3 linked regions of the Homo sapiens genome follow. The protein of the gene in region 2 purifies or fractionates together with the protein of the main gene of each other region. This does not show direct contact. Each region holds a gene or a part of one and is shown on either strand. Other genes may lie near its edges.

What was found.
Region 1: the proteins of MAP2K4 (region 2) and TNFAIP8L1 purify together in Homo sapiens (affinity purification with western blotting, with the first as the bait; one study listed by BioGRID). This does not show direct contact.
Region 3: the proteins of MAP2K4 (region 2) and PUS3 purify together in Homo sapiens (affinity purification with mass spectrometry; one large-scale study listed by BioGRID and IntAct). This does not show direct contact.

What each region holds. Positions count from the first base shown.
Region 1 is NC_000019.10:4,652,647-4,656,078, forward strand, and holds the end of TNFAIP8L1 (tumor necrosis factor alpha-induced protein 8-like protein 1), read left to right. Parts: 3' UTR 1-2,922; downstream 2,923-3,432. UniProt on the Homo sapiens protein: Acts as a negative regulator of mTOR activity.
Region 2 is NC_000017.11:12,023,877-12,027,531, forward strand, and holds part of MAP2K4 (dual specificity mitogen-activated protein kinase kinase 4), read left to right. Parts: intron 1-3,655. UniProt on the Homo sapiens protein: Dual specificity protein kinase which acts as an essential component of the MAP kinase signal transduction pathway. Essential component of the stress-activated protein kinase/c-Jun N-terminal kinase (SAP/JNK) signaling pathway.
Region 3 is NC_000011.10:125,896,644-125,900,298, reverse strand, and holds part of PUS3 (tRNA pseudouridine(38/39) synthase), read left to right. Parts: exon of another isoform or gene 1-30; coding exon of another isoform or gene 31-930; exon of another isoform or gene 931-955; intron 956-1,140; exon of another isoform or gene 1,141-1,195; intron 1,196-3,655. Other genes in the region: centriolar and ciliogenesis-associated protein HYLS1, read right to left, coding at 31-930. UniProt on the Homo sapiens protein: Formation of pseudouridine at position 39 in the anticodon stem and loop of transfer RNAs.

The sequences.
Region 1 (3,432 bases), on a different chromosome or scaffold from region 2:
CAATGGGGAGAGGAATTTGGGGCCCTACTCTGGGGACCACCTTTCACCCGTTTGTACTTTCTGGGCCACGCCGACCCCTGGGTCGCTTGATGTAAAAGCCAAAAGCTGCTGCCTCCCACTTGGATCATGTCGCCTGGGATTTTCATCCCTCGCACAAGGACTACGGGTTCACACGGTGAACTGGGGGAAGGGAAGTGTTAGGGGGCAAGTCGCGGCACCCCCCCTTCCATAAACTCACGTCCTAACCCCCAGGACCTCAGAAGATGATCTGATTTGGAAATAGGATCATTACAGATGGAATTAGTTCAGATGATCTCATCTTGGAGTAGGGTGGGCCCCAATTCAAGGACTGGGGTCCTTAAAAAAAGGGGGCCTGGGGCAGGGCGCGGTGGCTCACGCCTGTAATCCCAGCACTTTGAGAGGCTGAGGCGGGCGGATCACGAGGTCAGGAGATCGAGACCATCCTGGCTAACACGGTGAAACCCCATCTCTACTGAAAATACAAAAAATTAGCTGGGCATGGTGGCACATGCCTGTAGTCCCAGCTACTCGGGAGGCTGAGGCAGGATAATCACTTGAACCAGGAGGAGGAGGTTGCAGTGAGCCGAGATTGTGCCACTGCACTCCAGCCTGGGTGACAGAGCAAGACTCTGTCTCAAAAAAAGAAGCGGGGGAGTGGGGGATTGAGGCCACGTGCAGTGGCTCACTACTCTAATTCCAGCACTTTGGGAGGCCGAGGCAGGAAGATTGCTTGAACTCAGAAGTTCAAGACCAGTCTGGGCAACATGGTGAGACCCTCGTCTCTACAAAAAAAAAATTATCGTGGTGGGCCGGGCGTGGTGGCTCACACCTGTAATCCCAGCACTTTGGGAGGCTGAGGCGGGCAGATCACAAGGTCAAGAGATCGAGACCATCCTGGCCAACATGGTGAAACCCCGTCTCTACTAAAAATACAAAAATTAGCCGGGCATGGTGTTGCGTGCCTGTAGTCCCAGCTACTTGGGAGGCTGAGGCAGGAGAATCGCTTGAACCTGGGAGGCGCAGGTTGCAGGGAGGCGGAGGTTGCAGTGAGCCGAGATTGCACCACTGCACTTCAGCCTGGTGACAGAGCGAGACTCGTCTCAAAAAAAAAAAAAAAAAAAAAAAAAAAAGTGACTGTGGTGGTGCACACGTATAATCCCAGCTACTTGAGAGATGACGAGGGAAGATCACTTGAGCCCAGGAGTTAAGAGGCTGCAGTGACCGATGATCATGCCACTGCACTCCAGCTTGGGTGAGAGTGGGACTCTGTCTTAGAAAGAAAAAAAAAAGTATTTGGACACAGACATGCATGCAAGGAAGGCCAATGATGCCGGCCACCACCAGGAGCTGGGAGAGGCCCAGGGCAGATCCCCTTCAGCCTTGGAGGGACCTAGCCCTGGCCACACCTTCATCTCAGACTTGCGGCCCAGAGAACTGAATGAGAATAAATGTGCGTGAAGCCCCTCAGTCCACAGGATGTGGTACTGGAAGCCCCCACTCAAGAAGGCTCCAGTGAATGCTGGCACGTTCAGCCAGGATGCCTCCGTGAAGCTGGAGACCTCTGCCCTGGGTCGGGAGGGGAAACTGCTCCAATCCAGGGACTGCCACATGGGAGGGGACGGAGCGTGCCCACCTCCCAGGGGTGAGGGGGGACCCACCTGAGATGTGTGCACATTTTATTTATTTATTGTTTTGAGACAAAGTCTCGCTGTGTCACCCAGGCTGGAGTGCAGTGGTGAAATCTCGGCTCATTGCAGCCCCTTCCTTCCAGGCTCAAGTGATCCTCCCACCTCAGCCCCGGGTAGCTGGGACTACAGGTGTGCACGAGCACACCCGGCTAATCTTTGTATTTTTTGTAGACAGAAGGTCTCACCATGTTGCCCAGGATGGTCTCGAACTCCTGGGCTCAAGCGACCTACCTACCTCGGCCTCACAAAGTGTGCACATTGTAATATCGTGATTTCATATTTGGAGAATCAGCAACCAACCAGCCAACCATGTTGCTTTTATAAGACAGAGCTGAGAAAGCAAAGCTTGGCTGTCGTCTTGGCTCTGGTACCACCCACGAGATGCGGGCGATTCTCAGCTCAGGGCGTGGAGGCGTGGTGTGGGGGAGTCTATTTGCCATTTTTGTTTGTCAGCAGGGGGCAGGGGTTCTCAAAGATTGCAAAATGCTGCTGCAGGTCAGGAAGGTTATTTTGGGTGCCTGTGGGGGAGGTGAAACAAGGTCCCATGACTGTTTTGCAGAACCTTGTCTGTGGAGGGTAGAGGTTGCGGCAGGGGCCTGTGGGCCTTACTTGGTGAGAAGGTAGGTCTAGCTGGCTCCATTCAGTATTTGAGACATTTGGAATTTGTCTGCATTTAAAACCAAGAGATCACACACACCTGTCTGGATTTGGAGTTTCTCTTGAAAACTCGCCAGTCCGGCCGTCTGAGCCTGCACTGACGCCTGGTGAAGCTGTGCAGGGGCCGCCCCTCTCCCTTTCACCACAGTCCTCTCCACTCCCTTTCGCCTCTCCCTGGCCTGCTGCACTCACTGATAGGAAATTCTGACCCCAGACTCGGAGCAGCCTTCCCGTGGTTCGGTTTTTGCTTCCGCGAAAAAGCCAAAGGCCTTGGCCAGAGAGCCAGCTGTTCCTACCTCTACCCCACGCTTCCAAGGCAACCTTCTCCACTTATCTTAGGCCGAGAGACAGCTCTTCAAGAACGTACATGGATCCTGATTTTCTCACGAAGTCCCGATGGAACCCTGTGCTGTTGAGACATCAGTGTGTAAAACTCTCTGTGTCCCTGTTGGGCTGTCCAGACAGTCTGGACTCTTGTAAATTTGAGATTTAATTAAAGGAAACAAACCAAATAGGACTGCGGAACAATTTAAATAAAAGCACACACCAGCCTGGGCGCAGTGGCTCATGTCAGTTAAACCTAGTGCTTTGGGAGGCCGAGGCAGGAGGATCACTTGAGCCAAGGAGTTCAAGACCACCCTGGGCAACATAGCGAGACCCTATCTCTAAAAATATATATATATAAGGCCAAGTGCAGTGGCTCACGCCTGTCATCCCAGCACTTTGGGAGGCTGAGGCAGGCAGATCACCTGAGGTCAGGAGTTCAAGACCAGCCTGGCCAAGATGGTGAGACCCCATCTGTACTAAAAAGTACAAAAATTAGCTGGGCATGGCGGCGGGTGCCTGTAATCCCAGCTACTTGGGAGGCTGAGGCAGGAGAATCACTTGAACCTGGGAGGCGGAGGTTGCAGTGAGATGAGATCGTGCCACTGCATTCCAGCCTGGGCAACAGAGTGAGACTTGGTCTCAGAAACAGAATAAAAAAATAAAAAATTATAGCCAGTCAGGGTGGCATGCACATGTGGTCCCAGCTATCTGGAAGGATGGCTTGGACCCAGGAGGTTGA
Region 2 (3,655 bases):
TGAGAATGCATGTAAGCCTGGGACCTGACATGTAGTAAGGATGCAATACACATTAGCCATCATTGTTAGTAGCGACAATATTGTTATGGTCTCATTAATGGTCCCTTTTACTATTGGTAAATGAGTCCCTAACCTCTCATTATTTACCACACAATTTCTTTAGTTCATATTACTAGGTCCCACTGTTCTCTCTAACCTGTTGATTTCCCCACTTTTCATTATTGAGCAGTCCTTTCAGAGTATCCTAGATGAGATTTTATTCTACTTCAAACTCCGGATCTGTTTTTTTCTGGATCTGAGGACTCTCAAATGAATTACAATGTGAACGATATGAAACAGAAGTCTAGCTATCAATTTGCTCTACTCATTTTTTTCATAGGGGATGGGTAGATGGTTGGAATGGGATTTATAGTGAATTTGATTATAAGAGTAATCAACAGACGTAGCTTTGGTTGCATGTTTATGCTAACAGTTATGGCTTCTAATCTGGCCATTTTTGCCACTGTCCCTCAGATAATAGGGAATAGCTGCTAATTTTGTTATTACTCAAAAGATTTGAGTGTCTTCACTCATTCTGACTCATTTTTTTTTCATGTTCATTCACAAACACACCCAACCTTTATACGTTGAGTAGTTCTTAGGCTTTGGTTCTTTGATGACTAAAGCTAACAAAATGTAGATCTGTTTGCCAAGTTAGGTAAGTGGTTTTATGAAAGTATATTTGGCATTAGGATGAGTTTGCATTTGAGAGAGGAAACAATACTCAAATTAACTACTCTGAGAAATGTTTTTATTCTTAATGTTTCATCAATAATTTGTTAATGTAGATAGATTTAATAGGAAAATTTCTTGCATATTAGGGCCTCATTCTGTGGAAAAGTATTATTCTTTAGTCCAAGAAATTTTAGCCAACCTAAAGTACGGAATTGACTTGTAGCATTCAAGAACCTTCCTAGCCATGGCTAGGGCTTTCCCTTGTGGCAAATCTAAAGCCTCGTGACTTTAGCTGGGTTAGTGTGAATCCTGTAAAGAGAAGATCCCGTTATACCAGGTAATTAATCTTAGATATGTATAGCAAATAGTACTAGATAGTATGGTTGGCATGTTAGAGAATAGCATATTCTGATTAATAGAGCTTGCCAGTTGAGAATTCAACAGCTTCTATAATGAAATTGCATAGGCAGGATGATTCCTTTTCCAGTAGTAGCTGTAGCAGCTAGCGTTCCCATAGCATGTAGTAATGTTTAAGAAACAAAAGGATGTTGAAGTGTAAAGAGCACTGGACTTAGACTCAGAAAACCATGGTTAAGGTAACTGCTCTGCTGTTTACAAACACTGAGATTTTAGGGAAATTCCCTAACTTTTCTCAACTCTCTGTTCAGAAATTTCTCATCTGTTAAAATAGGGATAATGCCTAACCTGTAGGGCCATTGTAAGAATCACATTCTTAATGCATGTGAAAGTGCTTTGAAAATTATAGAATATCTATAAGTATATACAGATTGTTATTAGACATGATTATTTGCCTGCTGTAGCTACTAATCACTTAAAATGTAATAGATTTCAAAGATCGCTTAGCTGAGAAATGTCAGTTTTCAATAGATGTTTTCTTAAAATGGTTAGAATAGAATCTATAATTGATTCAGAAAAACATTGAGCCATTTGTAAAATACTTGTTACAAGAAATAGTTAGAAAGTATATGTTGTAGGTGCCTCTGATTCTCTTAAAGTTCTGATTTACAGAAAACTTTGTGACCAGTCGAGTCCTTAGCTATTTACCCTTAGCTGAGCATTTTTATGTATCAGTTTAAGTAGAAAGATGATAGCTTGATTCTGCTTTAGAAAACACGCCCAGTACTTTAAAATGTAATGAAGTATATCTGTTAAGAAAAAGTCAAGAGATTTAAAATCAATGTAGTTATTTCTCCCAAAAATATTTGAATATAAAATGTATATGAAATGTCCTGCTTTTGATTTTGTTTATCTGTTTTTACTAATTAGTCTGGTTTTCGAGAACCATGGGAGACCTTTATCTTAATTTTAAAGAACTGATTTGTGCAGACAGTGAAGAGTTTCAAACCCCAGAACTGCTTGCCCTTCCCAGTGTGTTGCATAACATTTCTTTTACTGTTTAACATAACCTCATACAAGTTCACCTCAGCAAATTAGTCCCCCCTCAAAGCTCAGACTGCATTTCTTCTTATGTTCCCTTAAAAATTAGAGCAACCCTAGTATTAAAGTAAAAAAGTGGAAAAACATCTCACCTCACTTTTAGAATACATATTTTCTCACATTTTCCTTTAAAATACCTTACTAGCCTGAATGTGTGCTGAAACTTGTTTAAGATGGGATATTAGTTAACCCTGTATTTTGAGTCGTTTTCTTTTTTCGTAAATTTTTCTTCTTTCACTAATTTGAGAAGCTGGATTGATGTGAGCCCATAGAGTTTCCTTATTTTTAGGGGTCTGGATATCATAATCCTAACTCCATTCTACATAATCGAGGTCAGTCTCCTTTGTAGTCTCTAGGAAGTGCAGATGGCTCCAATGATACAACCTGAGAAACTTTAATTGAGGCTTAAAAAAGAAAGGGAAAGTAACAGTTAACAACTTTTTTCACTGTTCCTACCTAATTTGATGCTCACAACCACCCTTTAAAGGTAAGTGGACATAGTCCCCTTCATAGATGAGGGGGTAGACGTTTATTTGTTCCGGAAGAGGTAGGTTTTAACCACCTGGGTGACTGGTAGCCTTTGCTCCTCTTACTACTCTACTGCATGGTTCTCTGAGCCTCTTTAAGTCATTTCGGCCATTCAGGTCTGAAGGAAGCATCTTTGCCAGAAGTGATGCAGATTCAGGAATGGAGGAGAGAGATTATTTTAGGTTTCAGTCAGGGGGCGGAAGCTCCAAGCAACCAGCCACCTTTTGAGATGATTTTGGAGCCTTGGTGCTCCAAGAATGGTGCACTTCATGTTACAATGTTCTAAACTTGCTGGAGGGTTTACAGTGGCATTTTGAATCTGGAGACATTTCGATTGGGAATCTCCAAGTAAGTAGAAGACTTTAATTAGAGGAAACCATTGCAGATTTGAAAGGTAATAGAATCCTTTTAACACTATATATAAAAGGAACTCATTTGTCATAAAATTTAACAAATGTTGTCGTTCTGGCTAAATTTGTAATCTGGGCAAATTACTATTTTTGCTAGTGGATGTGGGTTAGCTTCTAGCTGTTTCCTCCCAACTCTAGAAAATCTTCAGGTGTCTCTTCATGCTCGGTAAGGTTGGGAGTTTAATGTGTACTTAAATTAATAGAAAGTATTCAAGTCGTAAGACTGGCCTTGCTTGTAGCTACACAGTGAAAGGGAGATGATTAGCCAGTAGTTTACACAACTCAAGGTGGGCCTTTTGAATGAAGAAAACAATTACATTGTATGCAGCTTGGTTCTTTAAGAACAACACATTATTCTCCACCACGGAGAAAGAGGATTAAAATGGACATCACAGCAGCTTTTTCGAGCTATATTGTATTTCATTTTACCCAAAATTGCTCAAACATTGAAAAACGAGGAATCAAGAAAAGTGTTGCCAGACATATATATCTGAACATACACACACACACACAGACACCAAATTGTTCAAACATTTAAAAAAAGA
Region 3 (3,655 bases), on a different chromosome or scaffold from region 2:
AACAATCCTGTGAAAGAAGTTTAAAAAGATTTAAGAAGGAGAAAGAGGGAAGGGAAGCTTCCTGGGTATGACACCATTTGCAAGGTCACAACGAACACCCCAACGGAGTGCAGACCTTTTCTTCTCTGTTGGTACTAGATAATTGTTTGGGACATATATATGCTGAGGTTTGGATTGGGGTTCTGCTCGACAAAGCATCTGCTCTCGGACACCCCAGCGTAATTCCTTTCTATGATCTTCACCAGGTAAACGTATTGAGTCCCAGTCCCGTTTGTACTCAAAATACCGGGCTACCCGGTCTGTCTTGCCCCGGTTTCGGCTTAACTGGTCCAGCTTTGGGAGAATAAAGGACTTGGGTCTGCTGGCAACAATCAGGTCTTGTTCGTAAGCTGGAGAGCCCATTCCTTCTCTTTGTAGAGAGCAAATGAGCTGATCTTGAGAAATTCCTTGGTATTCATGTGGTAGGTTAAATTTTTGTGAAACATCAAATGAAGATTCCTTGTCTTCCTGGAACTGTACATTCATCAGCCTTTGTCTTAAGTCCCAGAGATCCTGATCATTTTCTGTACCAGATTCTGATTCACTGATAATCGACTCATCTGTTACTAATACTTCCCCATCTGGCTTTCTGCGCAGCACCTTTCTCTTCATCACTGGCTTTCGGAGTCTTTGGGAGGCCTCAGAGACTGTTTCTGAAGGGACATTACTTTCTACATGTGGGTACTGTAGTTGCACAGGAAGAGCAGGTCGCTTCCCTGGGGCTACTGAAGCTTTACTGTAGGGATCATATTGGATAGATTGGGCTTCTCTCCTGACATCTCCTTCACCCTGCCCTGCACAGATGTGGGTAAAAGCTGTAGCAGCTGCCAACATTCGTTCTTCTGGATCCATATTAGCCCATATTTGTCCATCAGGTAGAAGTTCTTCCATTGCTTCCCCTACACTGTAGGACCTTCTGCAAGAGATAACATTGGTCAGTTTTCTGATAATAAATTCCCAGCTCATAAATTGCTCATTCCCTTATCTCCGTTTTATAGCAGTCAAATGGAGAAAGAATGGCTAAGGCCATCATAAATTCAATACAGGGTAGTATCAGAACAGTTTAGAGGGGCATTAACTCAGTTCTAGGGAATCTATTACCTGCTTTCATTTCCACTCTTACTCCTGCTTTCTACTGTCTTGCCACCTTCAGGTCCTAAAACAGGACAGTATAGTTCTGGCATAAGAAAAGCTTGAAACTACATGATATGGGGCATACTGCTTAATGCACATTATGTAACAGGTACTTAGGGAGTACTTTATGTGCCTGCCATTGTTCTATGTGCTTTACATTTATTAATTCATGTAATTTTCAGCTGTGGGATTATCTGCTTTTCACAGATGAATAACATGAGGCACAGGGAAGTTAAATAACTTGCCCAAGGTTACTCAGCTAGTAAGTAGTGGAGCTGAAATTCTAACTCAAGCAGTTTGGCTTCAGACTGAGTCCCTGCTTTTAACCATAAAAGAGTGATTTGATCTAAAAAAAAAAAATCACAAAAGCAGTGTTGTGTTCTCTCACACACATATAATGTGTATATACGTGCATACATATAATTTCTATGCTTTAATAATTTTTTTTTTTGAGATGGAGTCTTGCTGTCACCTAGGCTGGAGTGCAGTGGCATGATCTCGGCTCATTGCAACCTCCACCTCCTGGGTTCAAGCGATTATCCTGTCTAAGACTCCGGAGTAACTGGACTACTACAGGTGTGGGCCACCACGCCTGGCTAATTTTTGAATTTTTAGTAGAGATGGGGTTTTACCATGTTAGCCAGGCTGGTCTCAAACTCCTGACCTCAGGCAACCCACCCGCCTCGGCCTCCCATTACAGGGGTGAGCCACCGCGCCCAGCTGTCTTGGTAGTTTTAATGCATCTTCAGTTGCCAGCTAAATCTGTTTATTCTAGTGTCTGAAATAACTTGGTATCCACATCAATCAGCCACATACCCAATGCTAGTTTCCTGACTGGATCTGAGATAGGTATCTACTGTCCACTATTTCCTGTGTCCCCACTATTTTTCTTTTTAAACTGAAAAACTAATACATGCACATGATAATTTTAAGCAAGGATTTTCCCTCCCCCACCAAGTTTTACTCTCAAAGGCAATTTCTTATGATTTATCTAGAAATTTTCCATATTCACATGTACATTTTTTTTTAATACCGTAAAGGACAACACTACACAACTCTTCTGAACCTTAAAGATAATCTTGGTTATCCAGCTATATCAGCACAGGCCGACATTCTTCATTTTATGTTGCGCGGAATTCCAATGTATGAATGTATCATAAATTTAGTCAGCCATTCCCTTACTGGTGTAATTTAGGTTTATAGGTTTACTGATGCTAACACGAGTATCTTGCAAGTTTTTATCTATTTGTGCAAGCATATGAATGGATTAAATTTCTAGACATGGGAGAGGTGGGCCAAAAGGTATGTGTATATTCAATTTTGACAGCTGTTGCCAAAATGTTTACCTCCAAAGAAGCTGTACTGACCATACATTAATAGAGCTTGTGTCTCTATTCCCTCTCCAAAGTGGTATACTATCAAACTTTGTCTTTGCAGTCACTTCCTTGAAAAATAGTTCATATCCTTTTGCATTTATCTCAGCTGAGTAAAATTGAGCATTTAAAATTTTTTTTAAAAAATTTTTATAAGCTTTTTTCTTTTTGTTTGAAATGCTTGGTCTTTGCCCATTTGACTCTCAGGTTGCTGGATTTTTTTTTTTTTTACTTTTTCATTAAAACTGATGTATATATTCATGAAATATATATTGAGGAAGGTCGCACTTTACCATCACTTATTTTTTTCTTCTCAGTTTGTCATTTGCCTTTTATTTTTTGCTGGCAGAAGTTTTTCCTTTTAGGTCACATCTTTTTCTAGTGTCTGGGTTTCTAGACTGTTTTGCTTAGAAATGCCTTTCCTACTCCAGAATTTCAGAAAAAAGTCATTCCATGTTTTCTTCTAGTACTTTCAGTTTCATTTTTTACAATTTAAACTTTTAATCTATTATAGATACAGAAACTCATAGTAAAAAACTAAGCTACCTATACTTAGATAACATGGCCTTAGAACAGATGTGGAGATGGTCTTCTCTAACTAAAGTAACCATCAGTCACAGATTGTCTAGGACCATCCCAATTTTAAGGATGTAGTACAGTTGTCCTCAGATTATTGAAATATTACAGGAATTTCTACACTGACATCTACATTACATCAGACTGACTTTTTAAACTATTAGAGGCACAGAAATCTTTTATCAAAATATGCATTTAATTCAGCTTTAGAAAGGGGTCAGAGTGCTTAATTATCTTTTTTTCTCCCATCAAAATTGCTTAAAGTGAGAAAATCTTGTCTCTAGCTTCTACTTCCAATGTGAAATACAACCATCGGTAAGCTTCTTCAGTTAGGCTAGCTTCTATTGCACCACCTAATATTCATCTAATGAATATTAGATGATGGAGCATACAAGTCATTTATTTGAGATAATGGAAAGCAATAGAAACTCAGAGCAGATAAAAGTAGCCCATATAAAGAAATCTTATGACTAGCAAATTGAACAAATACAGTGAGAAATCAAATGGAAATGTTTTAGAGAAAAAAATCTGTA